2 separate regions of the Homo sapiens genome follow, and region 1 is linked to region 2. Evidence: fine-mapped expression QTL. A gene starts in region 2. The other region holds a variant in brackets. All regions are shown on one strand. Distances are from middle to middle.

Region 1 (15,163 bases), 820 kb before region 2:
AGCGAGACCCCGTCTGCAATCCCGGCACCTCGGGAGGCCGAGGGTGGCAGACCACTCGCAGTCAGGAGCTGGAGACCAGCCCGGCCAACACGGCGAAACCCCGTCTCCACCAAAAAATACGAAAACCATCAGGTGTGGCGGCGCGCGCCTGCAATCGCAGGCACTCGGCAGGCTGAGGCAGGAGAATCAGGCAGGGAGGCTGCAGTGAGCCGAGATGGCGGCAGTACCGTCCAGCCTCGGCTCCGCATCAGAGGGAGACTGTGCAAAGGGGAGACGAGGACCGTGCAAAGGGGAGAGGGAGGGGGAGGGGGAGAGGGAGAGGGCTTATTCTAAATTTACCTTTTTATATTGGAAGTGAGTTTCTTCTAAAGAGAATATGCATGGTCATATTTATTAATCAGTGTTGTCAGGCCGGGAACAGTGGCTCACGCCTGTAATCCCAGCACTTTGGGAGGCTGAGGCGTGCGGATCACGAAGTCAGAAGATCGAGACCATCCTGGCTAACACGGTGAAACCCCGTCTCTACTAAAAATACATAAAAAATAGCCGGGCGTGGTGGCGGGCACCTGTAGTGCCAGCTACTCGGGAGGCTGAGGCAGGAGAATGGCGTGAACCTGGGAGGCGGAGCTTGCAGTAAGCCAAGATCTCGCCACTGCACTCCAGCCTGGGCGACAGAGGAGATTCCGTCTCAAAAAAAAAAAAAAAATCAATGTTTTCAATCTTTGTCTCTAATTGATTATTTTATTTTATTTATTTATTTTTGACTGGTGGCAGTAGAATTTATTCAAATGTGCCTTAATACAGGTGCTAGGGCTTGCCGGTGGTGCTCTTGTTATATAAGGGCCGGACATTCTGCCGGTTTTCCGTGAGCAGTGACATCAGGAAGTTTACAGCCAGGTGAATGTTACACACATCGTCTGTGTGTAACATCGTCTGTCATCTTCACGTGGCTGACAGCCACAGCCAGACATAGCACCTTCTTCATTTGGGTGTTGATTGTGAACTTCACCTCATCCACTTTGGCCAGCATGTTTTTGTTGTGTGTCAGCGGAGATCTACTTGGTTAATTCAGAACATTTAACAGTTAAGTTAATTTTGTTAAAACTAGCCTGATACGTTGTTTTCTGTTTGTTCTCTCTGTTTTGTTCCTCTGTGTGATTTTTACTTTCTTCATGTAGATAATTTGAACATGTTTTAAAATTTCATTTATTTGTAGTGTTTTTGAGTATAGCTTTTTTAGTGTTAGATCAACGTATTACATTATATTCAGAAATTATCGTAGTTAACAATGTTTCAATTGTTCCTTGATATTCAAATACAATTTATAAAACACAAAAGGGAAAGAAAGCCTATTGTATCTACCCTCATTTTATCCCAGCATAGAAGGCACATTGGATAAAAGTTTTGTTTGATAAGGTGTCTTTCCTGGTCTTTTTGGCTGAAGACAGGAGTCTGTTGTTGGGTTTGCTTTTTGTTTTTTGGGGTTTTTTTGAGACAGTGTCTCTCTGTCACCAACGCTAGAGTGCAGTGGCATAATCACAGCTCACTGCAGCCTCAACCTCCCCAGGCTCAAGCCATCCTCCCATCCCAGACTCCCAAGTTGCTGGGACTATAGGTGTGCACCACCATACCCAGCGAATTTTTTGTAGAGGTGGTATTTCACCTCTACAAAAAATGATGCCCAGGCTGGTCTTGACCTCCTGAGCTCCAGTGATCCACCCGCCTCAGCTTCCCAGAGTGTTGGGATTATAGGCGTGAGCCACTGCACCTGGCTGAGAAGTATCTGGTTAGATCCTTTCCCATTTTAAATTTAGATTCTTTTTTTGTTTGTTTTTTGCTATTAAGTCATTTGAGTTCTTTGTATATTCTGGTTATTAATACCTTATTGGGTGGGTATTTTGAAAATACTTTCTGCCATTCTGTAGCTTTTCTCTTTACCTTGTTAATTTTTTTTTTTTTTTTTTTTTTTTTTTTGCTATGCAGAAGCATTTTGGGTTGATATAACCCCATTTGTTTTTGTTTTCGTTGCCTGAGCTTTTATGGTTTTACTAAAAAAAAAAAAAAAAAAAACCACTATCCAGACCAGTTTGTTCATTTTGGGTAACTGAAACTTTGTATCCCCCCAACCCCCGTTTTTCTTTCAGCTCAGCTTCTGGAAAACACCATTCTACTCTCTGCCTCTACACGTATAATTACTTCATATTTCACATGTATGTGAGATCATGATGTATTTGTCTTTCTATGTCTGGCTTCTTTCAATCGTGCCTTAATGTGTACCTTAGTATCCTTCAGGTACATTCATGTTGTCACAAATGAAAAGATTTACTGGCCGGGCGCGGTGGCTCACGCCTGTAATCCCAGCACTTTGGGAGGCCGAGGCAGGCTGATCAGCTGAGTTTGGGAGATCGAGACCATTCTGGCTAACACGGTGAAACCCCGTCTCTACTAAAAATACAAAAGATTAGCCAGGCATGGTGGTGGGCGCCTGTAGTCCCAGCTACTCGGGAGGCTGAGGCAGGAGAATGGTGTGAACCCAGGAGGCAGAGGTTGCAGTAAGCCAGGATCGCGCCACTGCACTCCAGCCTGGGTGACAGAGACTCCATCTCAAAAAAAAAAGAAAAGAAAAGATTTACTCCCTTTTTAAGGCTAATATTCTATTGCATGTATATACTACCTTTACTTGACACATTCATGTATCCTTCATGGACATTTAGGTGGCTTCCATATCTTGGCTATTGTGAATAATGCTGTAATAGACACAGAACTATGTAGCTCTTCAAGATCCAAATTATATTCCCTTTGGATGTATCCCCAGAATTGAGTTTAATGAATCAAACTGTAATTTTTTTTTTTTTCGAGACGGAGTCTCACTCTGTCACTCAGGCTTTAGTGCAGTGGTGCGATCTCAGCTCACTGCAACCTCTGCCTCCCGGGTTCAAGCAATTCTCCTGTCTCAGCCTCCCGAGTAGCTGGGATTACAGGTGCGCACCACCACTCACAGCTACTTTTTTTTTGTATTTTTAGTAGAGACAGGGTTTCACCATGTTGGCCAGGCTGGTTTTGAACTCCTGACCTCAAGTGATCCTCCCACCTCGGCCTCCCAAAGTGCTGGGATTACAGGCATGAGCCACCACACCCGACCTATAATTCTGTTTTTAACTTTTTGAGACAACTGTATGTTGTTTTCCATTGTTGCTGCCAATTTTAATTCCTGCCAGCTGTGTACAAAAGTTCCAGTATCTTCATAACTTTAGCACGCTTGTTTGTTTTTAATATACCTGTCCTCACAAGAGTGAGGTGATGCCTCACTGTGACTTAAATTTGCATTTGACTGACATTTAATGACACGGAGCATTTTTTAAAATATACCTGTGGCCATTCTTATGTCTTCTTTGGAGAAATGTTTATTTAGGTCATTACTCATTTATTAATCTTGTTATTTGGGGTTTGCTATTGAGTTGTAGAAATTCCTTGTATTTTTGGATATTAACCCTTTATCAGATATATTATTGGCAACTATTTTTTTCTCATTCCTTAAGTTGCCTTTTCATTTGTTGAATTTGTCCTTTGTTCAGAAGTTTTTCTATTCGAGGTAGTCCCACTTGTCTGTCCTGATTTTATTGCCTGTTCTTTGTCTTACTATTTTGTTTTTTTGAGACAGGGTCTCATTCTGTTGCCCAGGCTAGAGTGCAGTGATGCAATTTTGGCTCACTGCAACCTCTGCCTCCCAGGTTCAAGCAGTTCTGCCTCAGCCTCCTGAGTAGCCAGAACTACAGGAGTGCACCACCACACCCAAATAATCTTTAAAATAGATTTAGTAGAGATGGGGTTTTGCCATGTTGGCCAGACTGGTCTCCAACTCCTGACCTCAGGTGATCCGCCTGCCTCAGCCTCCCAAAATGCTGGGATTATAGGTGTGAGCCACCACACCCGGCCTGTTGCCTGTTCTTTTGAAGTCTAATTTAAAAAAAAGCATCTCAATGTCCAAAGTTCTGAAAATTTTTCCATATTTTTTTTCTAGCCATTTTATGTTTTCAGGTCTTATGTTTAAATATTTAATCCATTTTAAGTTAATTTTTAATATGGTATGAAGTAAGAGTCCACATTTATCCTTTTGCATATAGAGATCCAATTTTTCCAGCACTATTTACTTAAAAGACTCTCATTTCTCTGTTGTGTATTTTTGGCACCCTTGTTGAAGATCAGTTGATTGTATGCATATATTAGATTTATTCTGGGACTCTCCATTCTGTTCCATTGTTCTTTATGTCTGTTTTTATGCCAGTACTATCTTGTTTTGATGGCATTGCTTTCTAATGTTTTGAAATCAGAGAGTATAATATCGTCAGCTTTGTTCATCTTGCTCAATACTGCTTTGACTGTTTAAGGTCTCTTTTGGTTCCAAGTAAATCTGTAATTATTTTTGTCTAGTTTAATAATAAATGCCATTGGGGTTTGGATAGGGCTTGCATTTACTTTCTATATCACTTTGGGAAGCATGGACTTTTATTTTATTTTATTTTATTTTATTATTTTATTTTGAGACAGGGTCTTGCTGTATCACCCAGGCTGAAGTGCAGTGGCACAATCATGGCTCACTGCAGCTTCAACCTCCTGGGCTAAATCAATCCTCTCACCTCAGCCTCCAAGTAGCTGGAATCACAGGCATGCAAAACTATGCCGGGCTAATTTTTGTATTTTCTGTAGAGACAAGGTTTCACCATGTTGCCCAGGCTGGTCTTGAACTCCTGAGCTCAAGCAATCCACCTGCCTTGGCCTCCCAAACTGCTGGGGTTATAAGCATGAGCCACCATGCCTGGCCAGCATGGACATTTTAACAATATAAATTTTTCCAGTGTATTTTCTGTGCCCCAGGAACAGGCCAAAAGCTGTTTCAAAAAAAAAAAAGAAAGAAAAAAAGAAAAGAAAGGAAGGAAGGGGAGGGGAGGGGAGAAGGGAAAAGAAAAGAAAAAGAGCAATTATCTACATAGGATGGCATGATTTTCCTCCAAAATCTTTCCTGTGATTAACACAGGAGCTTTCCAGAAGCTCCAAAGATCATCTGTATCTGCCATCAACAATTTCAGCACCTTTGACTCTATTGGAAGACATGACCCAAGTGACACGACAGCCTGGATCTGATGTAGAATATTCTTTTCTGCTGAGTAAAGAAAAGCTAGCAGCTTTTTGGGTCACAGGGTAAATGGGCCAGAGTAACTTACCAAATGAGAAATATGTTACCTTCAAAATCAAAAGGCCCACTAGAGTTGTGCCTCTTTTTTGTTGTAGTAGAAGCCAAATATAACAACTTACTCCTCTGCTTCCAGGGGATACGTTGGCATGTCCCAAACCATTGGGACCCTATAAATCTCACAAAGATAGAAGGCTTCTGAAATTTTGTTGGATTAATGTCCTACATCCTGACATAAATTTCATACCAGTAAGTCTAGAGTGAGCTTCTCATACCAATAAGTCTAGTGAGTTTCTTGCTCACTATATTCAATGAGCATAATACCATCAATGTAAAGAACCAGTGTGATAGTTTGTGGAAGGAAAAGGTGACCAAGATCCCAGCAAACTAAGCTGTAACATAAGGCTGAAGAGTTGATATATCACTATTATTGACTGAACTATGTCCCTCTAAAATATATATGTTGAAGCTCTAACCCTCAATGTGACTGTAATTGGAGATAGGCCTTTACGGAGGTAATTAAGATTAAATGAGAGCCGGGCGCGGTGGCTCACGCCTGTAATCCCAGCACTTTGGGAGGCTGAGGCGGGTGGATCACCTGAGGTCAGGAGTTCGAGACCAGCCTGGCCAATATAGTGAAACCCCATCTCTATGAAAAATAAAAAAAATTAGCCAGGCGTGGTGGCGGGCGCCTGTAATCCCAGCCACTAGGGAGGCTGAGGCAGGAGAATCACTTGAACCCAGGAGGTGGAGGTTGCAGTGAGCCGAGATTGTGCCGTTGCACTCCAGCCTGGGCAACAAGAGCGAGACTCTGTCTCAAAACAAAACAAAACAAACAAACAAACAAAAAAAGGTTAAATGAGGTTATAAGGCTAGGGTTCTATAAAAAAAAAAGTCATTATAAGAAGAGAAAGAGACATTAGAGATCTCCCTTACCACAAAAGCACAGAGGAAAGTCCATGGAAGGACATAGAGAAGGTGGTCACTTACAACCCAAGGAGAGAGATCTCACCAGATGCCAGTTCTGATGATCTTGATTATAACTTCTACCTTCTGCAACTGTGAGAAGAAAATACATTGATTAAGTCACTCAGTCGGCATGCTGTTACAGAAGCCCGAGCCAATTACTAGTGTGTGAGGTAGGACAGTGACGGTGTGTTTCTGTCTTTGCCACCTGAAAGCGAACTGCTTCTGGTGGTATTTATTAACAATGATAGAGAAAAAAAAGTATTAGGCAGATGAATAGCTGTACACTAGGTACCAGGGATGTGTATATTTGCTCAAGTAATAAAACAACATCTGGTACAACAACTGCAATGGGAGTCTCCATATGATTTAAGCTTACGTTTATCCAGTATAATTCTCCAAGATCTCTTATGTTTATTCAGTGACTTACATAGGATGAAATGAGAGCCATGACCCTTGGATGGTTCCTTTTTTTTTTTTTTTTGAGACCAAGTCTAGCTCTGTCACCCAGGCTGGAGTGCAGTGGCACGATCTCAGCTCGCTGCAACCTCTGCCTCCTGGGTTCAAGCGATTCACCTACCTCAGCCTCCCGAGTAGCTGGGATTATAGGTGCATGCCACCACGCC[C/T]GGCTAACTTTTTTTGTATTTTTAGTAGAGGTGGGGTTTCACCATGTTGGTCTCCAACTCCTGACCTCATGATCCGCCCACCTCGGCGGGCTCCCAAATCTGAACTCAGCACTCCCAAAGTGCCACCTCTCCCAGCCTACCCTTGGATCTTTTAAGACCTTCCTGGTGGCCTCAGTCTCTGAAATCCCTGTACGAATGTGCTGTTGCTTTTGGTTGACTTTTTCCTAGGAATACGCAGTTCTGATGACTTCATCTTGACCTTTTTTTACCAAAATAGCTCTCGCTCCACTGGTCAGGGAACCAGTTTGGCATTCTACCAGTTGCTGAGTATGTCTAATCTAATTATGTATTCCAGAACGGGGAAGATAACCGAAGGGTGGTTTGAGAAACCCACCAGGCCAACTGGGAATTAGAATTGATTCAAAACTCCATTGATCGCCTGACCTCCATAAGCTCCTACTCTGGTAAATGCCCTGCAATGTCATTTCAGTTCTCCTGGAATTAGTATCAGTTCAGAAACTGTATTCAGTAATTCCTCAAAGGTCTGATTATTTCTTTTTTCCCAATGCAAAGGTTCTCCGGTAAAAGGCCATAGTTTTCTTTGGGGAAAAGAGGGGGACAAATTAACAGTATATATTTGTAATAGTATACTGGATTTCTTCCTCATAGGGACCCAGCATCTCATTGATTCAAGGAGTTCTGGGTCTATAAACTAATTCGAGACTGGAAATTAATTGAGAAGCCAAGCCAGGTGTGGTGGCTCACACCTGTAATCCCAGCACTTTGGGAGGCCGAGGCAGGTGGATCACAAGGTCAGGAGTTCAAGACCAGACTGACCAACATGGTGAAACCCCATCTCTACTAAAAAAAATACAAAAAGTAGCCAGCGTGGTGGCACGCACCTGTAATCCCAGCTACTCGGGAGGCCAAGGCAGGAGAAGTGTTTGAACCCAGGAGGTGGAGGTTGCATTGAGCCGAGGTTGCGCCACTGCACTCCAGCCTGGGTGACAGAGTGACACTCCATCTCAAAAAAAAAAAAAATTGAGAAGCCATAAATCTTTGGTTTTGTTTTTTGTTTCATAATTCAGGTTTGGCTTTGTTTGACTTGAACTTTTCTACTTATATAGATCAAGTAAAAACTTAGTAGTCTTCCTGTCTATTCTAATTCTTTTTTTTTTTTTTTTTTTGAGACAGAGATTCGCTCTTATTGCCCAGGCTGGAGTGCAATGGTATGATCTCAGCTCAGTGCAATCTCAGCTCACCGCAACCTCTGCCTTCCGGGTTCAAGCGATTCTCCTGCCTCAGCCTCCTGAGTAGCTGGGATTACAGGCATGCGCCACCACACCCAGCTAATTTTGTATTTTTAGTAGAGATGGGGTTTCTCAATGTTGGTCAGGCTGGTCTCAAACTCCTGAACTCAGGTGATCCTCCCGCCTCGGCCTCCCAAAGTGCTGGGATTACAGGCATGAGCCACTGCGCCCTCTATTCTAATTCTAGGAAGCCCATGAGTCAAACTATTCTTATTGCTTGCTTTGACTTTGCAGTCTGTTAAATAACCATTCCCACCATTTTTTTCACAGCTGCAGTTGAGTGCTGCCACTTAAATCCTGCAGTCCCGAGATCCGGTTATAACCAATGCATTTAGATTTTTCATTTCGGTGGCAACAATCTTCATTGTAAGTTCTGTCCTACAGAGAAGTGTGGTGATCAAGCTCTTTGGAGATACTGGGACTCCTCTCACAAATGTATGTCTCACAGTTATGATGAATGGTGTATCTCCTGGATCTTCCTCAGTTGAGTATGTTTTAAAGGAAAAATACACTTTATCATTCAAATCTTTCAAAGCTTTTGAATCACTTTATAGCAAACCAATGAAGATCCAGCATTTCATTCTTTCTTTTCTTTTTTCTTTTTTTTTTTTTTTTGAGACAGAGTTTCACTCTTGTTGCCCAGGGGCTGGAGTGCAATGGTGCGATCTCGGCTCACCGAAACCTCCACCTCCCGGCTTCAAGTGATTCTCCTGCCTCAGCCTCCTGAGTAGCTGGGATTACAGACATGCACCACTACACCCAGCTAATTTTGTATTTTTAGTAGAGAAGGGGTTTCTCCATGTTGGCCAGGCTGGTCTCGAACTCCCAACCTCAGGTGATCCTCCCACCTCAGCCTCCCAAAATGCTGGGATTACAGGTGTGAGCCACCGCACCTGGCCCTCATTTTAACTTTTTAATATCCAATGTTTTCTGAATGAATACCCCCACTTTAAAAGTAGGCATCCTGCAAGCCTGGGAATTTAATTTTTGTTGTAATTCAGCCAGTTATGGGATGAGATGCTATGATTTCTTTTCAGCATTTTGAGCCCTGAAGCTGCAGGAGTTAAGTATCTTCTTCAGGGCTACATATAAATTTTTAGGATATTAATGCAGTACTTGTATTAAAAACTTGGAATCCCTGACTTAATCCTTTTCTTTACCCAGTTTGTCCAGCAACATCAGAAGCAAATATCAAATCTCATTATACTCGTTAGTCTGACAAAAAGACCCAGATTGTATACAAAATCACCTGGATACTTGCACCTTTTAAGTGTTTGATTAGCAGTATCTAATGGTGATATCTTGTGTATTTCTACTACCAGATTACGCCAAAAACTATTCAAGTACATTTTACTATTAAAAATAAAATCAAGGCTGGGCACAGTGGCTCACGCCTATAATCCCAATGCTTTGGGAGGCCAAGGTGGGCAGATCACCTGAGGTCGGGAGTTTGAGACCAACCTGACCAACATGGTGAAACCCCGTCTCTACTAAAAAGACAAAAATTAGCAAGGTGTGGTGGCACACGCCTGTAGTCCCAGCTACTCAGGAGGCTAAGGCAGGATAATTGCTTGAACCCAGGAGGCAGAGGTTGCAGTGAGCTGTGATGGCACCACTGCACTGCGGCCTGGGTGACAGAGCAAGACTCTGTCTCAAAAAATAAATTATTTAGGTTCTTTATTTGATCAAAAGACTACAGTAGAAAAAATATGTAATCACTTTAGTATATCCTTGAATAAAATATGTGATGATTAAGAATACCAAATAGGATAATAGAAACTTCTGGCTGGGAATGGTGGCACATGACTGCAGTTCCAGCTACTCAGGAGGCTGAGGTGAGAGAATTGCTTGAGCCCAGGAGTTTGAGGCTGCAGTGAGCTATGATTCCATCTGTGACTAGCTACTGCACTCCAGCCTAAGAAACATCAGAGATCATGCTTTGAAAGGAAGGAAGGAAGGAAGGAAGGAAGGAAGGAAGGAAGGAAGGAAGGAAGGGAGGGAAGGAAGGGAAAAGGCAAAAATAAAATTCTTATTAAGCAAAGATATTTGTGCAAACATCATAATCAACAGCAAACATCAGAAGTGTTTCAATAAAGAAAAGTCTAAGACAAGGGCCGGCAAGGCCTCTCCCATTTATCACTGTGAGGGATGCCTGAGTCTGGACCAGAAGAGAGAAGAGGAGGAAACAGGAAAGAATGTAAGTCAAAGAATTTGAACTGTAGTTATCCACAGAGGCCATGAGTACAAATAGAAAAGCAGGGTAATCGATTTCAACTTTCAGAACAAAAACTGTTTAACAACATTCAGGAAATTGAGCAAATGCACATTGTATATATAATAAATCTTGAATCTTTCATACTAATAATAAACATACAGTAACAATAACAAAGAGTCAGCCTCCATCCACATTAGCAAACGTGCCATGAAATCGACTTAGAAGACATTCCCAGGCCTATGTGAAACCATAAAACTTTACTGAAAACCATAAAAAGACACATTGAGGCCGGGCGTGGTGGCTCACACCTGTAATCCCAACACTTTGGGAGGCCAAGGTGGGCAGATCATGAGGTCAAGAGATTCAGACCATCCTGGCCAGCATGGTGAAACCCCATCTCTAGTAAAAATACAAAAGTTAGCTGGGCGTGGTGGTGCGTGTCTGTAGTCCTAGCTACTCGGGAGGTTGAGGCAGGAGAATCGCTTGAACCCAGGAGTTGGAGGTTGCAGTGAGCCAAGATCGCGCCACTGCACTCCAGCCTGGGCAACAGAGTGAGACTCCATCTCAAAAAAAAAGACACATCAAAGACTAACAAACCAAATCCTTACATTAGAAGAAGTAGTGAAATAAAGATACTAAAGATCCAGACTCAGTGCACTTCAAACTTTTTGAAATAGCTATTCTAACAGATGTGAGGTGACATCTCATTCTGGTTTTAATTTGCATTTCTCTGATGATTATTGAACTTGGGCTTTTGTTCATGTACTTTTTGCTCATATGCATGTCTTCTTTGAGAAATGTCTATATCAAGTCCTTTGCTAATATTTTATAGTATTTGTTTTCTTGCTGTTGGACTGTTTGAGTTTTTATACATTTGTGATATTAATGCATTATCAGACGTATAGTATAGAAATGTTTTCTGTCATGCAGATGCTTCTTAGAGACAAGGCCTCACTCCATTGCCCCTAGGCCAGGCCTGGTGAGTGACAGCAGCCCTGGTGCCCCAGCCTGCTAGGGCAATGTGTCACCCAGAGGCTTCAAGGCCCTTCTCACCATGGTACCCACCTCCTCGAAGCTGCCTCCCAAAGCCCTCTAGCTGCTGCTGCAGCCACAACAAGTGCCACCACCAGGGGCCTTCCAGCTGCCAGTGCAGGCTTTCCAGAGCCGGGGACTGGGGAACCTGCAGTCATCACCTCAGCAATTCTGGTGGCAGCCAGGCCAGCCAGGGCAGCGATGATGACCGTAATGAAAAGTGGGATGACAGCTCCACACTGGTGGATGAGTTGAGAACACCAGGCAGAGGCATGTACCTGGTCTTTGATGGTTCAGTGGACCTGCACTACCATTGCAGTGCAAAGTGCAAGAGTTGAAGCTTGGAAACCTTCACCTAGATTTAGGAAGATTCATGGAAAAGTCTGGATGTCCACGCAGAAGCCTGCTGCACGAGTGGAACCCTCATGGAGAATCTCTACCAGGGCAGTGTGGAGGGGAAATGTGGGGTTGGAGCCCCCACACAGAGTCCCACTGGAGGACTTCCTAGTGGAGCTATGAGAAGAGAACCACTGTCCTCCTGACATCATAATGGTAGATCCACTGGCAGCTTGCACTCTCAGCCTGAAAAAGCTACAAGTACTCAAGGCCAGCCCTTGAGAGCATCTACAGGTGCTAAACCCTGGAAAGCCACAAGTGTGGTGCTGCCCAAGGCTTTGGGAGCCCACCCCTTGTACCAGCACGCCCTTGATGTGGGATAGGAGGTCAAAGGAAGTTATTTTGGAGCTTTAAGATTTAATGACTGCTCTGCTTGGTTTTGGACTTGTGTAGGCTTGTAGCCCCTTTCTTTTGGCCAATTTCTTCCTTTTAGAATGGGAATGTTGATCCAATGCCTATACCCCCATTGTATCTTGGAAGTAACAAACTTGTTTCTTATTTTACAGGGTCATAGGCAGAAGGGACTAGCCTTGTCTCAGATAAGACTTTGGACTGTGGACTTTTGAGTTAATGCTGGAATGAGTTAAATATTTGCAGGACTGTTGAGAAGGCATGGTAGTTTGTTTGTTTGTTTGTTTGTTTGTTTGTTTGTTTGTTTTTTGAGACAGAGTCTCCCTCTGTCACCAGGCTGGAGTGCAGTGGTGCGATCGCAGCTCACTGCAATCTCTGCCTCCTGGGTTCAGATGATTCCCCTGCCTCAGCCTCCCCAGTAGCTGGGACTACAGGCCTCCATCACCATGCCTGGCTAATTTTTTGTATTTTTGTAGAGATGAGGTTTCACCTTGTTGGCCAGGATGGTCTCGATCTCCTGACCTTCTGATCTGCCTGCCTCGGCCACCCAAAGTGCTGGGATTACAGGCGTGAACCACTGCACGCAGCCGGTAGTATTTTGAAATATGAGAAGGACATGAGATTTGGGAGAGACCAGAGGTGGAACAATATGGTTTGAATCTGTGTCCCCGCCCAAATCTCATGTTGAATTGGAATCCCCAGTGTTGGAGGTAGGACCTGGTGGAAAGTGATTGGATCATGGGGCGGTTTCTCATTAATGGTTTAGCACTATCCCCTTAGCGCTGTTCTTGTGAGAGAGTTTGCATGACATCTGGTTGTTTAAAAGTGTGTGGCACCTCCCCCCACACTTCCTCCTGCTCCAGCCACGTAAGACATGCCTGTGGCCGGGCGCGGTGGCTCACGCCTGTAATCCCAGCACTTTGGGAGGCTGAGGTGGGCGGATCACGAGGTCAGGAGATCGAGACCATCGTGGCTAACACGGTGAAACCCCGTCTCTACTAAAAATACAAAAAATTAGCCAGGCACGGTGGCGGGCGCCTGTAGTCCCAGCTACTCGGGAGGCTGAGGCAGGAGAATGGCGTGAACCTGGGAGGCGGAGCTTGCGGTGAGCCAAGATCGCGCCACTGCACTTCCGCCTGGGCGAAAGAGCGAGACTCCATCTCAAAAAAAAAAAAAAAAAAAAGCAAAGACGTGCCTGCTACGCTTTCACCTTCCACCATCATTGAAAGTTTCCTAAGGCCTCTCCAGAAGCCGAATAGATACCAGCATCATGCTTCCTGTACAGCCTTTAGAACCATGAGCCAATTAAACCTCTTTTCTTTATAAATTTCCCAGTCTCAGGTGTTTTTTTATGGCAATGCAAGAACACACTAATATAGCTGAGTTATTGGGGCCACATCAGTGGAACCTATTCAGTGGAGTCATGTGGGACCTGGTCAGCAGGGCCTGGCGAATAGGTCCTTGTGAGTGGGGGTCTGGTCAGTGCTGACCTGGTCAGCAGCAGCCTGGTCAATAGCACCTGGTCAGTGGGGGCCTGGTCAATGGGGACACAATCATTGGAGACCTAGTCAGAGGAAGCCTGGTGAGCAGGTGCCTGGTCAGTGAGGACCCGGTCTGCGGGGACCTGGTCAGAGAGGACTGGTCAGAGGGCCTGGTCACTTGGGGCTACACCAGTGTGTCCTGGTCAGCATGGGCCTGGTCAGCTGAAATGTGGTCAGTGGGGGCCTGGTGAGTGTGACCTGGTTATTGGGGTCCTGGTCAGTGGAAACCTGGTCAATGAGGCCCGGTCAGTGGAAATCTGGCAATGGGGGCCCAGTCAGTGGAGGTCTGTTCAGTAGGGACCTGGTCAGTGGGGACCTGGCTACTGGGGTCCTGGGTAGTGGGGCCTAGCCAGTAAAGGTCTGATCATTAAGGACCTGGTCAGTGGGAACCTCATCAGTCAGTGGAGGGACCTGGTCAGTGGGGTCTGGAATTGGGGGGCCTATCAGTGGGGCCTGGCTAGTGGGGCCTACTCAGTGGAGGTCTGGTCAGTGGGGTCCTAGTAAGCTGAGGCCTCATCATTTGGGGCCTGGTCAATGGGGACCTAGGGAGTGAGGGACTTGTCAGTGGGGCCTAGTCAGCGAAACGTGGCCACCAGGAGCATAATCAACTGTGGTCTTGTCTGTGGGGGCCTGGTCTTTGGAGTCCTCATTAGTGGGGCCTGGTCAGTAAAGGTCTGTTCAGTAAGGACCTGGTCAGTCAGAACCTCGTCATTTAAGGCCCAGTCAGTGGAGACGTTGACAGAGGGGGCCTTGTCAGTTGGGCCCAGTCAGTGGAGGCCTGGCAGTGGAAGCCTCATCCGTGGGTCCTGGACAGTGAGGACTGGTCACTGGAGGTCTGATTGGGGGTTTTGTGAGTATAGCCCAGTCAGTGGCGGCCTAGAAGTGGAGGCCTCATCAGGGGGTCCTGGCTAGTGGGGTCTAGTCAGTGGTGGTCTGGGGTCCTGGTAAGTTGAGGCCTCATCAATTGAGGCCTGGTCAGTGGGGCCTGATCATTGGGGTCCTGGCTAGTGGGGCCTGGTCAGTAAAGTTCTGGGTCATTGGGGTCCCGGTTAATGGGTCAGTAAAGGTCTGGTTATTAAAGACCTGGCCAGTCAGAACTTCATCAGTTAAGGACCTGGTCAGTTGGGACCTGGGCAGGTGGAACCTTGTCAGTTAAGGACATGGTCAGTTGGGACCTCATCAGTGAAGGAAGTGGTCAGTTGGAATCTTGTCAGTTGGGCGCAGTCAGCCTGGCAGCAAAAGCCTCATCCGTGGGTTCTGGATAGTGAGGCCTGGTCACTGGAGGCCTGGCCGTGGAACCTGGTCAGTGAGGGTCTGGTCACTGGGCTCATGGGTAGTGGGGCCTGGTCAGTAAAGGCCTGGTCATTAAGGACCTGGTCAATCAGAACCTCATCAGATGGGGCCCAGTCAGTGGAGTCCTGGTCAGTGAGGCCTGGCTAATGGGCCTCGTAAGTTGGGTCCCAGTCAGTGGAGACCTGGTCAGTTGGAGGCTTGTCAGGGGACCAGGTTGGTGGGGCCTAGTCAGTGAAACCTGG
Region 2 (15,163 bases):
CCTTAGAGCTGGCATTTCAGGCCATACGTGGGACCCAGTACAAGTGCTCTGAAGTGGGGCTGAGCAGCTTGACCAATGGGCAATGAGGAGCTTGAGCCTCTCTCTGAGGTGTCCAGGAGAGCCACGGAAGATGCTGGAGCAAGGAGGTGGGCAGCATCGCCAGTTAGAGGGGTCCCTTGGTGTGTGTTGGTGGGGGGGATCCTAGAGGGCATAGCCAGGGCACAGGTGGCCAAACCAGAGACCCCGGCCTGTGCCTGGGGACTAGGAATACTCTCCCTCTGGCAGACCCAGGGAAGAGGCTGTAGCATGTGAGTCACCTGGCTGCTGTGAGAACATTCGGCGCGCGGCAGCCCCACGTGGGCTGTCACCAAGCAGGAACACGGCCCCCAGAGGCCCTCTGAGCTGCCTTCCCCACGGGCTTCTGCTCTCTGTTCCCACAGCTGCTCCCCCAAGGCCACAGAAGGAGCGTGGGATGGGGGGACAGGCGGGGAGGAGGCCGTGTAGGCTGCACAGCCAGCATTTGGGAGCTCCAGGGTAGAGTGGGGCTTCCCCGGCAGAGGGCTCACTGTGTTCTGGGGCTGCCCTAGTCTCAGGACTCTGCTCAGGGTGGGGAAACTGAGGCTCAGAGAATGGTAGGGTCTGCGACCATTCTGCACATGGACAGACACCTCGTTCTTTCCTAAGAGCTGAAACCCTGCCCAGGGCCTGCAGTGTCAATGTGACCACTCCCTCTCTCTCTGGCTCCAAACTCCCCATGGCTCCCCAGTGCCTTCAGAATGAAACCCACACAACTCACCAAGACCCACAAGGCTCTGCTCAGTTCCTGTGACCCCCTAGGTCTCAGCAGTCCCATAAGCTTTTCTCCCACTTACTCCACTCTAGACACCTGTCTAATGTACCAGCAACATGTCCTGCCTGGCCCCACCTCAGGGCCTTTGCCCATGCTCCGACCCCCAGTGCCTAAAGCACCCTTTTTAAATTACACCTGTTTCATCCCTCAGGAAAGGTGCAAAGAGTTCATGAAAGGTTATATGCCCAGGAACACACAGCAAGCTGGTGGGACTTGGGATATGAAACCAGGCCCATCTGACTACCCCCACTCCCACCCCCTGGCAGCCCCTTTCCCGGCCATGGTATCACATCAAAAACAGACCTGGGCCGGGCGTGGTGTCTCACGCCTGTAATCCCAGCAATTTGGGAGGCCCAGGCAGGCGGATCACTTGAAGTTAGGTGTTCAAGACCAGCCTGGCCAACATGGTGAAACTCCATCTCTACTAAAAATGAAAAAATTAGTTGGGTGTGGCGGCACGCACCTGTAGTCCCAGCTACTCGGGAGGCTGAGGCAGCAGAATTGCTTGAACCTGAGAGGGGGAGATTGCAGTGAGCCGAGATTGTGCCACTGCACTCTGGCCTGGATGACAGCGAGACTCTGTCTCAAAACAAAACAAAAAGACTTCAAACCAATCCACCATGGAGCTGGCTGATTCTCAACCCCTCCAGATTTTTTTTTTTTTTTTTTTTTGAGACAAGAGTCTCGCTCTCCCGCCCAGGCTAGAGTACAGTGGCGCGATCTCGGCTCACTGCAACCTCTGCCTCCCAAGTTCAAGCGATTCTCTTGCCTCAGCCTCCTGAGTAGCTGGGACTACAGGAATGCACCACCACGCCCGGCTAATTTTTTATATTTTTAATAGAGACAGGGTTTCACCACATTGGCCAGGCTGGTGTTGAACTCCTGACCTCGTGATCCACCTGCCTCAGCCTCCCAAAGTGCTGGGATTACAGGTGTGAGCCATCGTGCCTGGCCATGCCCCTCCAGATCTTGCCACCTCTGGCTAGGTGCCAAAGACTCTCAGGCCTTGGGCCCAAGGCCCCCTGTTCAGGGAGCTCCAAGGCCAGCCGACCCCCAATTCCCGCAGTGCCTCCCCTGATGTGGCCTCAATTTCTCCGCCCCACTTTCTGCCCTTCAAGCGCTGCTGATGGCGGAGGCTTCAAGGACGCCACAGCCAAAAATAATCGGGCCCCGACCTACCTCCGGAAATTGGGGCAGCCCCGCCCAGCCACCTGGCACCCAGGAGGTAATTAGTGCATGTGGCAAATTAGGGTAATTAGGTCTGCGGGAACTGAACCTCGGGTCCAGGTTTGCTGCTCAGAGGGGCCTCAAGCACTGCCTCCTCCCATCCCCAACTCACTCTGGTCCTAGGTCCTCAAATCCATAAACCAGTGCTGGCGACCCCAACTCCACGACCCTTTCTTGCCTGGGCCTGAGGGAGCCTGGCTCCATTGCTTCATGGGGGGTTGTTGAATGAATTAACTTTAGCCGTGGGCAGAAGTCAAGTTCTGAATTTAAGGCAGGGTCTCCTTCAAGTGATGCAAAATCACCAATAGTACTGAGTCATCAAACTCCCCCTTTGCCTGACCCCCATGCGTCCACACTATGCTGGAAGATGACAAACTCTAGGGAAACATGGGCCCTGGTCTCAGCCCTTGAGAGACACTCAGGCTGGGGGAGTCAAAGCTGCACACAGACACTCCCAGGAGTCAGGGCTGGGCCAGAAAGAGGGAAGAGGGCTGGAAAAGGTCTAGAGGTAGAGGAGAGAGCTTCTTGGGGAGGAGAGCATTGAAGGTGAGGCTTTGAGGGATGAATAGGAGTTTGCAAAGAGGCTAATGTCTGGAGGTTGGCCCAACCAGCTATGGCTTGGGGAATGAAGAGAAGGAAGAGGGAGGTAGCTGGAGGGGGCACCTGAGAGGCCAGGAGCTAAAGATTTAGAGGATGTCATGCCAGGTTGGACCCATTTCTGTCCTTGAGAGTTCAGGCCTGGTTGGAGTCCTCTAACTTCTGAAAAAGAAAAGAGTAAGAGGTTGGTTCAGGATCAAAACCACATACCAAAAATAAATATGATGTTTATAACAGCAAGCATTTATTAAGCACCTACAATCACGTTCTCTTCACATAACAACTCATTGGAGGCCAGATGCAGTGGCTTACATCTGTTATCCCAGCCCTTTGAGAGGCTGAGGCAGGCAGATCTCTTGAGTCCAGGAGTTGGAGACCAGCCTGGGCAACATAGTGACACCCCATCTCTACAAAAAATACAAAAATTAGCCAGGCGTAGTGGTGTGCACCTGTAGTCTCAGCCACTCAGGAGTCTGAGGTGGAAGGATTGCTTGAACCCAGAAAGTTGAGGCTGCAGTGAGCCATGATTGAGCCACTGCACTACAGCCTGGGCAACAGAGTGAGGCCCTGTCTCAAAAAAAAAAAAAAAAGAAAAGAAAAGAAAAGAAAGAAAAAGGGTGGGCGTGGTGGCTCACATCTGTAATCCCAATAGTTTGGGAGGCCAAGGCGGGTGGATCACTTGAGTCCAGGAGTTGGAGACCAGCCTGGCCAACATGGTGAAACCCCTGTCTCTACTAAAAACACAAAAATTTAGCCGGCTGTGGTGGCGTGCGCCTGTAATCCCAGCTACTAGGGAGGCCGAGGCAGAAGAATTGCTTGAACCTGGAAGGCAGAGATTGCAGCAAGCCGAGATTGCGCCACTGCACTCCAGCCTGGGTGACAGAGCAAGATTCTGTCTCAAAAGAAAAAAAGAAAAGAAAAAGAAAGAACTCATTGGATCCCTACAGTAAACCTCAGAAGTGAACACCATTCGTATGCCCATTTTATGGATGGGGAACCTGAGGCACAAAGAAGGGAAAGTGACTTCTTCAGGGTGGCACTGCTGGTAAGCAGCAGGGCTGGGATTCACTCCCTGGCTCACGTGATTCCGAAAGCCAAGTCGAAAGCTGGAACCTGGGGATCTCCTACTCCTGAAAGTGCTCATAGAAAGCTGTCACAGGGGCCAAGGGCGGTGGCTCACGTCTGTAATCCCAGCACTTTGGGAGGCCAAGGCGGGCGGATCACGAAGTCAGGAGATTGAGACCATCCTGGCCAACATGGTGAAATCCTGTCTCTACTAAAAAAAAAAATACAAAAATTAGCTGGGTGTGGTGGCGAGTGCCTGTAATCCCAGCTACTCGGGAGGCTGAGGCAGAAGAATAGCTTGAACCCAGGAATTGAAGGTTGCAGTGAGCCGAGATTGTGCCACTGCACTCCAGCCTGGCGACAGAGTGAGACTCCATCTCCAAAAAAAAAGAAAGCTGTCACAGGTCAGGCTTGTTCTAGGTGCAGGGACAAATCCATGTAAGAGGTGAACAGTAACCAAATCATGCCATAAACAATAAACAGACCTGAAGTAGTCACCAAGACCTTCACTGGGAGGTGGGCACCCAGCTTTCGGGAAGAGCAGGTGGACTGTCCCTGCTCTGGTGGCACAGAAAGTCTCTGGAGAGGAGAGACTGTTTAGCCTCACTCCAAAGGCTAGGTCAGATCTAACTAGGCAGAGACCAGAGCCTGAGCCATAAAAGCCATTCTGCAAATGCAGTTTTCTTAGTGCTGAATGAGCTGTTCAGGCTCCCGCTTGGTTTCCCCTTTAAGGTGGGAAGCTCATTCTCCCACACCATTTTTCAGCCCCAAAGGAAAGTTGCTTTCCTAGTCAGACACCTTGGGGTGGCCTCTGCCTGCCCTGCAAGGACATCTCAAGTCTGTTCCTTCCTTCCTTCCTCCCTCCCCCCCACCCTTTTTTGTTTTTGTTTTTGAGACAGAGTCTCCTTCTGTCACCCAGGCTGGAGTACAGTCACCTGATCTCAGTTCACTGCAACCTCTGCCTCCTGAGTTCAAGCAATTCTCCTGCCTCAGCCTCCCGAGTAGCTGGGATTACAGGTGTGCACCATCACGTCCGGCTAATTTTTGTATTTTCAGTAGAGACGGGGTTTCACCATGTTTTGACCAGGCTGGTCCCAAACTCCTGACCTCAGGTGATCTGCCTGCCTCAGCCTCTCAAAGTGCTAGGATTACAGGCATGAGCCACTGCACCCAGCCCAGTTCTTTAGAAGAGAGGCCTCCAGACCTAGGAAGAAGAGGGCCCAGACTGGGGTGGGGGCAGCAGCTCAGGGCAGCCCTCGTTAGAGACGAGGTCTCACTATGTTGCCCAGGCTGGTCTCGAACTCCTGAGCTCAAGCGATCCTCCAGCCTCGGCCTCTCAAAGTGCTGGGATGACAGGCATGAGCCCAGCCCCTTTCTGTGACTCTTATGTTACCTGTTTATTATATGACCAGGTCTAGGTGCTCCTCTAGGGCTGGCCCATCCATCCTGAAGCCTCAGTCTGACCCAGCATAAGAGTGACTATTCATCCCAGCAGGGAAACTGAGACACAGACTCTGTTTTCCCAGCTGCAGCAAAGAGTGGCAGGGCCTTTGCCCACGAACCTAATGGCAGGCACCCCAGAGGACAGCTGCTGATATTGACTAAATCCTTCATGTTTCTCCCTCTACTAGAAGCCCTGCAAGCATCGGCCCATTTTCCAGGTGAGAAAACTGAGGCCCACACTGAGGAAGCCAGTGCCTCAGTGTAGACTTGGCTAGTCCAGCTTCAGGTTGGGGCTGCTCAAGGCCAGCCCTGTCCCAGCCCCTCCCAGAGACCGGAGAGGGTGTTCAGGAAAGCAACTCAACCCTTCACTGTCTCTTTCACTGTTGCTTTCTGCCCACACAAAGGGCAAAGTCTGCCTGGGCCCCTCGCCCAGCCGCCCCTGTAAAATAGCCACAGGGCCCCACTTGTGCACTTGGCAAACTCTAAGCAGCTTCCAGAAGCCTTGGCCATGCCAGCACCTTTCCCAGATACTTTTTTATTTTTTCCATTATTTTGTTGGTAATAAGGAAAAGTCATTTTTTGCACAGAACAGACGGTATTTTCTTTGCTCCCCACAATGTTCAAGCATTTCGTGGCTTCCGGCCTGAGAACAGAGCCAAATCCTTCCCTTGTGCAGATGCCTCGTGAAGTTAGAAGCAGCCAGGGAAACCGAGTCTGTGCCTCAGTTTCCCCTGTGGGATGAACAGTCGCTCTTGTGCTGGGTCAGACTGGGGCTTCAGGATGGATGGGCCAGCCCTAGAGGAGCACCCAGACCTGGTCATGTAATAAACAGGTAACATAAGAGTCACAGAAAGGGTCTGGGCTCACACCTGTCATCCCAGCACTTTGGGAGGCCGAGGTGGGAGGATCACTTGAGCTTAGGAGTTTGAGACCAGCCTGGGCAACATAGTGAGACCTCGTCTCTAAAAATAAACTTTAAAAAAGAAAAAAAAAAGAGTCACAGGGATTGGGACAGGGGAGGGCAAGATCCCTTCCAAGGCCAGGGTAGTCAGAGAGGCTTCCTGGAGGAGGAGACAGGGTGGTGGCGCTGAGCCTGGAAGGACAAGGCAGAAGAGATGCCTGCAGCGAGGGCATTCCAGGTGGAAGGAACAGTTTGGGCAAAGGCCTGGATGGGGGAAGACTCAGATCTTGGCGCAGGAGTCAATCTCCAAAAACAACCTGACCTGGAATTCACCTAAAGGTAATTTGAATGTAATGTAACCGCCAGCTCAGATATACTATTCTTCTTAGAAGGAAACAGAAATAAAGGAACAGGGAAAGGAGACAGGAGCAGAGGTCTTGGAGATGAAAAGCAAAAGCCTCTCTGAAGTTGTCAAAACACTCAAGTGTCGGCCAGGTGTGGTGGCTCACGTCTGTAATCCCAGGACTTTGGGAAGCCGAGGGGGGCAGATCACTTGAGGTCAGGAGTTCGAGACCAGACTGGCCAACATGGTGAAACCCCATCTCTACTAAAAATACAAAAATCAGCCAGGTGTGGTGGCATGCACCTGTAGTCCCAACTACTCGGGAGGCTGAGGCAGGAGAATTGCTTGAATCTGGGAGGCAGAGGCTGCAGTAAGCCGAGATTGTGCCACTGCACTCCAGCCTGGGCAACAGAGTGAGACTTTGTCTCAAAAAAAAGAAAAGAAAAGAAAAGAAAAACTCAAATGTAAGATCAGAGCTTTAGGGCGCCACAGGCCTTGGTTCCAGGGAGCTGCAGGACCTCTGTCCACAAACGAACCAACGGCGCCGCACCGTGTGATTTTGGAGACGGTGCCAGAGAGGGGGCGGCACCAGGATTGACAAGTGGGACACATGGGCTTGGGGCTGGGGAGGTGGATCCTAGTTCAACTCCGGAAGGATGCTCTCCTGGCAAGTGTGGGAAGGGGGTGCTCCCTGTGACCAGAGGTGACAAACGCAGGCCAGTGGAGGCTGAGGGGATGCAACCATGCGTTGGAGACATTTCCTCAGCCTTTGGATTTTGGAACCCTCAAACAACAGCAAAGATAACCTTAATCCAACCATTGTGGGCATTTTTACCATCGTCTTGGGAGGGACAGAGGTGGACAGACGTCCCTGCTTAGGGATGGGACGGGCAGGGGAACAGAGGCTTCTCTCTCTTTGTCTTGCTTCCCGTTCCCTCCCGAAGTTGATCTCTTCCGTTTCCTGGCAACACCCATTGAGCACTTACTGTATGCAGACCCTGAGACCCACTGCCCCCTCCCCAACCTCACTGGGCCACCCATGTCAGCCCGGGAGGGACCTGACCTCCCTCACAGGCCCAAAGTTATGACCTCAGGTAGTGGGGACAGAGGCAGCTGTCTCCTGAGAAGGTGACAGGAGGGTGAGGTCACATCGCTGTCCGTGCAACTCTCTCCATCTGCTTCCTATCTCTCCGCCTGTCTCCCCCGTGTCTCTGTTTCTGGGTCTCTTTCTCATCCCAGATGTCCCTCTCCGTCTGTCTCTCTGTCCCCACCCTCTGCTCCCAACCCGACCCCACGCAACCCCCCCCCCCACTCCCCCTCCACCGCCCCTAACCCCCTCCCTCAATCCTCCGTCCCTTCCCCAGTCCCGGCCCCCGCCCCTCCCCCTTATCCCCTCCCCCATACCCTCTCCCAGTGCAAAAAGCCGGCAGGGGGCGCAGCGGGGCGGCCTTGGCGGCCCGGGGAGGCGGGGCGGGCGGCGGCCGCGTCGGGACCGGCCGCGATGGGACCGGAGGCGGCGCGGGCGGCGGCGGCGCAGACAAAGGCACGGGCGGCGTGGAGGGCGGCGCGGAGGGCGCGGGCCCGGGAGCCAGGGAGCGAGCGGGGCGCCCGGCAGCGCGGAGTCAGCGCCGCGGGGGCCGCACCCGACTCGCGCCTGGACACTCGCGGGGCGCCGACCTGGCAGGGTGAGCCCGGCCTGCCGAGCCTGCGCTGGGAGCGCGGGGGCCTCGAAGTCCCAGGGCCAAGGGGAGGGCGTGGGGGTTCCCCAGAAGTTTCGGACCCGGGACTGGGAGCGGCGCGAGGGGTCCCCAAGTTCCAGGGCTGGAGGGAGCGCGGGGGTCCCGAAGTTCTGGATTCAGGGTCTGAGAGGGGACTGCGTGGGAGGTTCCCAAAGTTCTGGACCCGGCGTTGGAGGAGGCTGCGAAGAGGTCCCCAAAGCTGCGGACCTGGGGTGGGGTACTGGGGTGGGAGGGGTCCGGACGTCCCGGACCCAGGGACTGGAGGGGTGGCAGGGGGTCCTCGAAGTTTAGGAGTCTAGGACAACGCGGAGGACCGGGGTCCCGGACCCAGTTAGAGGAGGAGTCACGAAGGGAGTCCCCGGAGTTACCGACCTGGGGTTGGAGGAGGCAGAAGAGGTGTCCCCCGAAGTTCTGGACCCAGAGACAGGGGGCGTCGCGGGAATCTCGGAAGTTCCAGGGTCAGAGCCCGCGTCCCGGAGTTGGGGCGTGCACTGGGTGTCCTGCCTCGGGTGGGGATGGGATCCTGAATTAATATTAACCCCCCCGTCCCCCGCACTCGGGTGCATGGGATGGGGCCTCATCCACCGGCCAGATTGGGGATCCCGGGCACCGGGCGGTGTCGGACCCCCCTCCGGGAGCCCCGTGGCCGGCGGCATCCGAGGCGCATGACTAGTTGGTGAGTAACTTTCCCCAAACGCTGCAAGTCGCAGCAGGAGCTGCCGGACCGGAAGGGCCTGGGTTCCGGGGACCCCTGTGTTCCCCAACTCCCACCCGGCGCAGGACCCGCCCCCAGTCCAGGCCAGAGCTGCCGCCCCACCCCCACTCAGGGGCTCCGGTTTCAGACCCTGTGACCAGGACAGCAGCTGCCCAGGACAGGATAGGGGGGGCATCCCCCCTTTGACCACAGAGGCCGCTGGGCCAGGGCCTCCCCTCCCCCACCTGTCTTCCCCCTCCTCCAAACTCCTCCTTGGTCCCCTGCAGATTCGGGGTTGCTGAATGGCCCAATGGGGAGGTTGGGGAGCCCTGGTCTCCCAGTGTGGATTCTGCTCTGCCCTCATGGTGGGCATTGGGATTGGCTGTTTGTCTACATCTTGTCTTTTTAACTTGGCTGGGGGCTCCCTGGGGATTTGGACTCTGGACTTCAAGGTGTGCTTCTGCCCTAGGGTGGGAGCTGCTGGGGGTGGGGTCCCTCTGCAGGGTGTAGTGGGGAACTGGTCTCCTGGTACTACACACCTCTCAACGCCCCATTTTTTGGTGGAGAGCCCCGCTCTGGCCAGTCATGGGTGAATGTGGTGGAAAGAACTCAGCAGAGATTTGGCCTCCACAGCTCAGCCTGGGATGGAGGGGACTTCACGGGGGTGCAATAACCAGGACAATGAGAAATTTACATCTGGATGTCAGCGGCCACCAGGCTCCTCTCAGAGGGCCATCTCCTGTACAGGGTGTTGTGGGGGCTTCCCCTAGACAAAGAAAGATGGGGTCTGCTTGCTCTGAGTTATCTATAATAATTATCTTACCTTTTTGTTTCTTTTTATAATTTCTTTCTTTTTTGAGACAGGGTCTCACTCTCTTGTCCAGGCTGGAGTGCAGTGGCCTGACCATAGCTCACTGCACTGCAGCCTTGACCTCCTGGGCTCAAGTGATCCTCCCACCTCAGCCTCCCCAGTAGCTGGGACGGCAGGCACATGCCACCACACCCAGCTAATTGTTTAAATTTTTGGTAGAGATGGGGTCTCGCCATGTTGCTCAGGATGGTCTCGAACTCCTGGGCTCAAAGGATCCTCCTGACTCAGCCTCCCAAAGCACCAGGTGTACTTTGGGCCTCTCCTGCCTTTTTGATTGAAAGTTCCATGACGGGCACACCTGGTGATGGGTCCTGAGATGGAACCTGCTTGGCCTCCCTCAGCCTGGCCTGAGGGACACTCATAGTCCCTCCTCTCTCCCTAGGGGCCAAACCAGTGCTCCTGCCACCTCTCTGGCTGCCCCCTAGAGCCTGCCCATCCCAGCCTGACCAATGTCCACAGCCAGGTGAGCTCCCACCTCCCCCAGCCTGGCCCTGAGCTTTCTAAGTGGGGGTGCCTGGCCCCCACCAAACACCCTCTCCCCACGCAGGGAGCAGCCAATCTTCAGCACACGGGCGCACGTGTTCCAAATTGACCCAGCCACCAAGCGAAACTGGATCCCAGCGGGCAAGCACGCACTCACTGTCTCCTATTTCTACGATGCCACCCGCAATGTGTACCGCATCATCAGCATCGGAGGCGCCAAGGTCAGGGTGGGGTCTGGGTGGGGCAGAGGCACCAGGAGTCCTGGTGACAACCTTGGGTCTGGTGGCTGGCTTGCTGTGTGCCCAAGGGACAGGAAACCCTAAGCCTTCCCAGGCCCTAGTCTCTATCTCCTGAAAGGGTTCAGAGTAAAGACCTTCAAGACCCTAATACAAGGTAATACCTGGGGGGTTTCATGTTTGTTAGTATCTGTCCCATCTACCTTGAACTTTGTTCCCCGACCCTAGGCCATCATCAACAGCACTGTCACTCCCAACATGACCTTCACCAAAACTTCCCAGAAGTTCGGGCAGTGGGCCGACAGTCGCGCCAACACAGTCTACGGCCTGGGCTTTGCCTCTGAACAGCATCTGACACAGGTGGGCCGGGTGAGGGGGAGAGTGGAGGGAACCGATGAGACTGGGCCCAAGTCTTCTCCTGGGCTCACTCTGGGATCTTGGGCAGGTCCCCTATCTTCCCATCTGCAGGATGGGATTGTAGGATGAGTTGAGACTGAAGCCCCTTTAAGCTTCCCCGGTTTGATTCCTAGTTCATTTTTCTGTTTTTTTTTTGAGATAGGCTGCAGTGATCTTGGCTCACGCAACCTCCGCCTCCCGGGTTCAAGCGATTCTCCTGCCTCAGCCTCCTGAGTAGCTGGGACTACAGGAGTCCGCCACCACGCCCAGCTAATTTTTTGTATTTTATTAGAGACAGGGTTTCACCATGTTGGCCAGGCTGGTCTCGAACTCCTGACCTGAAATGATCTGCCTGCCTCGGCCTCCCAAAGTGCTGCAATTACAGGCATGAGCCACTGTACCTGCTCTTGAGTCCTAGTTCTACTGCCTGTAGCTCTAATTTTGGACACACCCTGCTCCTCTTTGGGACATCAAATGGGTGGCTGGGCTGGGCTGGGCACTTTCCCACATGCCCCAGCAATACCTTCATCCTCACCTCCCTGCACCCTGTGCCGTCTCTATACTTCCATTATTATCTTTATCCGTGGTTTTGTTGATGATGAGTGCTTTCACGAAGATCTTCTTCTTTTTTTTTTTTTTTTTTTGGAGATAATGCCTTGCTCTGTCCCCCAGGCTGGAGTGCAGTGGCACGATCTCGGCTCACTGCAACCTCCACCTCCCGGGTTCAAGCGATTCTCCTGCCTCAGCCTCTGGAGTAGCTGGGATTACAGGTGCCCACCACCTCGCCCAGCTAATTTTTGTATTTTTAGTGGAGATGGGATTTTGTTGGCCAGGGTGGTCTTGAACTCCTGACCTCAGATGATCCACCTGCCTCGGCCTCCCAAAGTGCTGGGATTACAGGCATGAGCTACCACACCAGGCTTTCTTTGTTTTCTTCTAGAAGGTTTAGAATTTACCTTTCTTCTTTTTTTTTCCCTCCCTCCCTCCCTTCTTTTTTTTTTTTTTTTTAACAAGATCTTGCTCTGCTGTCCAGGCTGGAGTGAAGCAGTGCAATCATGGCTCACTGCAGCCTCAAACTCCTGGGCACAAGGGATCCTCCCACCTCAGCCTCCTGACTAGCTGAGACTATAGGCGTATGCCACCATGCCTAGCTAATATCTTTAATCTTATTTTTTTTAGAGATAGGATCTCACTATGTTGTCCAGGCTGTTCTTGACTCCTGGCCTCAAGCGAGCCTCTCACTTTGGCCTCCTAAAGTGCTGGGATTACAGGCTTGAGCCACTGCACCCAGACAATTTACTTTTTTTTTTTTTTTTGAGACGGAGTCTCGCTCTGTCGCACAGGCTGGAGTGCAGTGGCGCGATCTTGGCTCACTGCAAGCTCTGCCTCCCAGGTTCACACCATTCTTCTGATTCTTCTGCCTCAGCCTCCCTAGTAGCTGGGACTACAGGCGCCTGCCACCACGCCCTGCTAATTTTTTTTGTATTTTTAATAGAGACGGGGGTTTCACCGTGTTAGCCAGGATGGTCTCGATCTCCTGACCTCGTGATCCACCCACCTTGGCCTCCCAAAGTGCTGGGATTACAGGTGTGAGCCACCGCGCCCGGCCCCAACAATTTACCTTTCTAATTTAGGTCTTTTTTTTTTTTTTGGAGACAGAGTCTAGCTCTGTTGCCAGGCTGGAGTGCAGTGGCCCGATCTCGGCTCACTGCAACCTCTTCTCTCCAGGTTCAAGCAATTCTCCTGCCTCAGCTTCCCAAGTAGTTGGGATTACAGACACACCACACCTGGCTAATTTTTGTATTTTTACAAAATTTTTGTTTTTTTAATTTTTGTATTCTTAGCAGAGACAGGGTTTCACTATGTTGGCCAGGCTGGTCTCAAACTCCTGACTTCAGGTAATCCGCCTGCCTCAGGCTCCCAAAGTGATGGGATTACAGGTGTGAGCCACTGCACCCAGCCTAAAAAATCATTTATTTATTTATTTATTTATTTATTTTTTTGAGACAGAGTTTCACTCTTGTCCCCCAGGCTGGAGTGCAATGGTGCGATCTCGGCTCACCGCAACTTCCGCCTCCCCGGTTCAAGCAATTCTCCTTCCTCAGCCTCCCAAGTAGCTGGGATTACAGTCATGTGCCACCATGCCTGGCTGATTTTGTATTTTTAGTAGACATGGGGTTTCACCATGTTGGTCAGCCTGCTCTTGAACTCCTGACCTCATGATCCACCTGCCTCGGCCTCCCAAAGTGCTGGGATTACAAGCGTGAGCCACCACACATGGCCTTATCTATTTATTTTGAGACAGAGTTTTGCTCTGTCACCCAGGCTGGAGTGCAATGGCACAATCTCAGCTCACTGCAACCTCCACCTCCTGGGCTCAAGCAATTCTCCTGCCTCAGCCTCCCAAGTACTAGGATTACAGGCGCCCACCACCATGCCTGGCTAATTTTTGTGTTTTTAGTAGAGATGGGGTTTCACCATGTTGGCCAGGCTGGTTTCGAACTCCTGACCTCAAATGATCCGCCCGCCTTGGTCTCCCAAAGTGCTGGGATTACAGGTGTGAGCCACCGCACCCGGCCTAAAAAATTATTTTTAAACTAAGGAAATTTATTTTAAAACCGGGGTGGTGGGGGGAAACATATCCTATCCTAACTGGAAAACTGGTATTGCTTTGTCATAAATAGGTGGTAAATGTAAACATGTAAACATTTAATACAACAAAAACAAGAATGAGATGATTACTTTCTCATTGACTTCTGATGTCTCTCAGAGCCTGAGACCTAATCTCTTTGTTATAAAGGAATAATAACAGGTGTTAAAGACAGATTAGCACCCACCTGAGGCTCTCTTTGTTGAAATAGCCCTGATAAAGATTAAAAGGGACCCCACATGTTGGCTCATACCTGTCATTCTCACACTTTGGGAGGCCGAGGTGGGTGGATCACGGGGTCAGGAGTTCGAGACCAGCATGGCCAATATGGTGAAACCCCATCTGTACTAAATACAAAAATTAGCTGGGCGTGGTGGCACGGGCCTGTAGTCCTAGCTACTCGGGAGGTTGAGGCAGAAGACTCGCTTGAACCTGGGAGGCAGAGGTTGCAGTGAGCTGAGATGGTGCCACTGCACTCCAGCCAGGGTGACAAAGCGAGATTCTGTCCCCCCCCAAAAAAAAAAAAAAAAAAGGCTGGGTGCTGTGCCTGTAATCCCACCACTTTGGGAGGCTGAGGCAGGCGGATCACTTCAAGCCGGGAATTTAAGATCAGCCTGGCCAACATGGTAAAACCACATCTCTACTAAAAATATGAAAATTAGCCAGGCATGCTGGTGCATGCCTGTAATCCCAGCTACTCATGAGGCTGAAGCAGAGGCTGCCGTGAGCCAAGATCATGTCACTGCACTCCAGCCTGGGCAACAGAGCAAGACTCCATCTCAAAAAAAAAAAAAACAAAAAACAGGAAAAGGGCCATTCTGGGGAACATGGCTAGACCCCGTCTCTAGAAAAAATTAGCCGGGCATGATGGCACACACCTGTAGTCCCAGCTCCTTGGTGGAGGGGTAAGGTGGAAGGGTCACTTGAGCCAGGGAGGTCAAGGCTGCAGTGAGCCGAGATCATGCCACTGTACTGCAGCCTGGGTGACAAAGTGAGACCCTTTCCTAAAAAGAGGACATGGGAATTCCTTTCCCTTTCTCAATGTGGCCCAATGTATTTAAATGCCACCTCTGTGATCTGATGCCACCTGCCCACCCACCATGGTACATCATTTTTCAAAGTTTCTCTCCTTCTTCCAAGGTGTGTGATAAGGGGATGGGTACGGTTCGAAAGTGGCGGGGCTGTCACTGAGTGATGGTGACCTGTTTGGGAGGATGGGCTGGGGTTTTACTGTCTTTTCCTCCCCACTCCCTTAGTTTGCCGAGAAGTTCCAGGAAGTGAAGGAAGCAGCCAGGCTGGCCAGGGAGAAATCTCAGGATGGCGGGGAGCTCACCAGTCCAGCCCTGGGGCTCGCCTCCCACCAGGTCAGCACTCCCTACTCCCCTATGCCTGCCTGGGCACCTGTGAGTCAGCCAGGCGCTCAACTGATATTGGGGGACCTTGATATTGGGAGACCGGGGCACTCTGCTGGTCGTCAAGACCCAATGCTTCCAGATGACCTAAGGTTAGACCCACAGCAGGGACCACAGAGGAGTGGTGTGGAGTGTGTCATAGAGGGTCTGGACCTTGCCTGGGGCCGGTGGGGTACACCCAGTAGGTCCCAGTAGCAAAACCAGCTCAGATGGCAGGATGGAAGACTAGAAATTGAAATGGCTAAGTGTGGCCGGG

Evidence for each region. PIP is the estimated chance that this variant, and not a neighbour inherited with it, causes the effect.
Region 1: its variant is the best candidate, but not a certain one, in a credible set for the expression of HOMER3 in pancreas (GTEx, PIP 0.72).

What each region holds. Positions count from the first base shown.
Region 1 is chr19:19,754,622-19,769,784 of GRCh38, reverse strand. LINC00663 (long intergenic non-protein coding RNA 663) reads left to right here. Exons shown (of 3, transcript NR_026956.1): 2 at 7,139-7,247; 3 at 11,239-13,414. Among named protein-coding and RNA genes, the nearest start is that of LINC00663, 14 kb to the left of the region's middle. The variant C/T (reference allele first, on the strand shown) is at 6,784.
Region 2 is chr19:18,933,999-18,949,161 of GRCh38, reverse strand. It overlaps HOMER3 (homer scaffold protein 3), which reads left to right and starts at 7,945. Exons shown (of 10, transcript NM_004838.4): 1 at 7,945-8,111; 2 at 10,113-10,193; 3 at 10,278-10,434; 4 at 10,678-10,809; 5 at 14,752-14,859. The coding sequence starts at 10,180. HOMER3-AS1 (HOMER3 antisense RNA 1) reads right to left here and starts at 8,908. Exons shown (of 3, transcript NR_134913.1): 1 at 8,538-8,908; 2 at 2,934-3,081; 3 at 2,331-2,836. RefSeq lists a silencer at 7,782-7,981.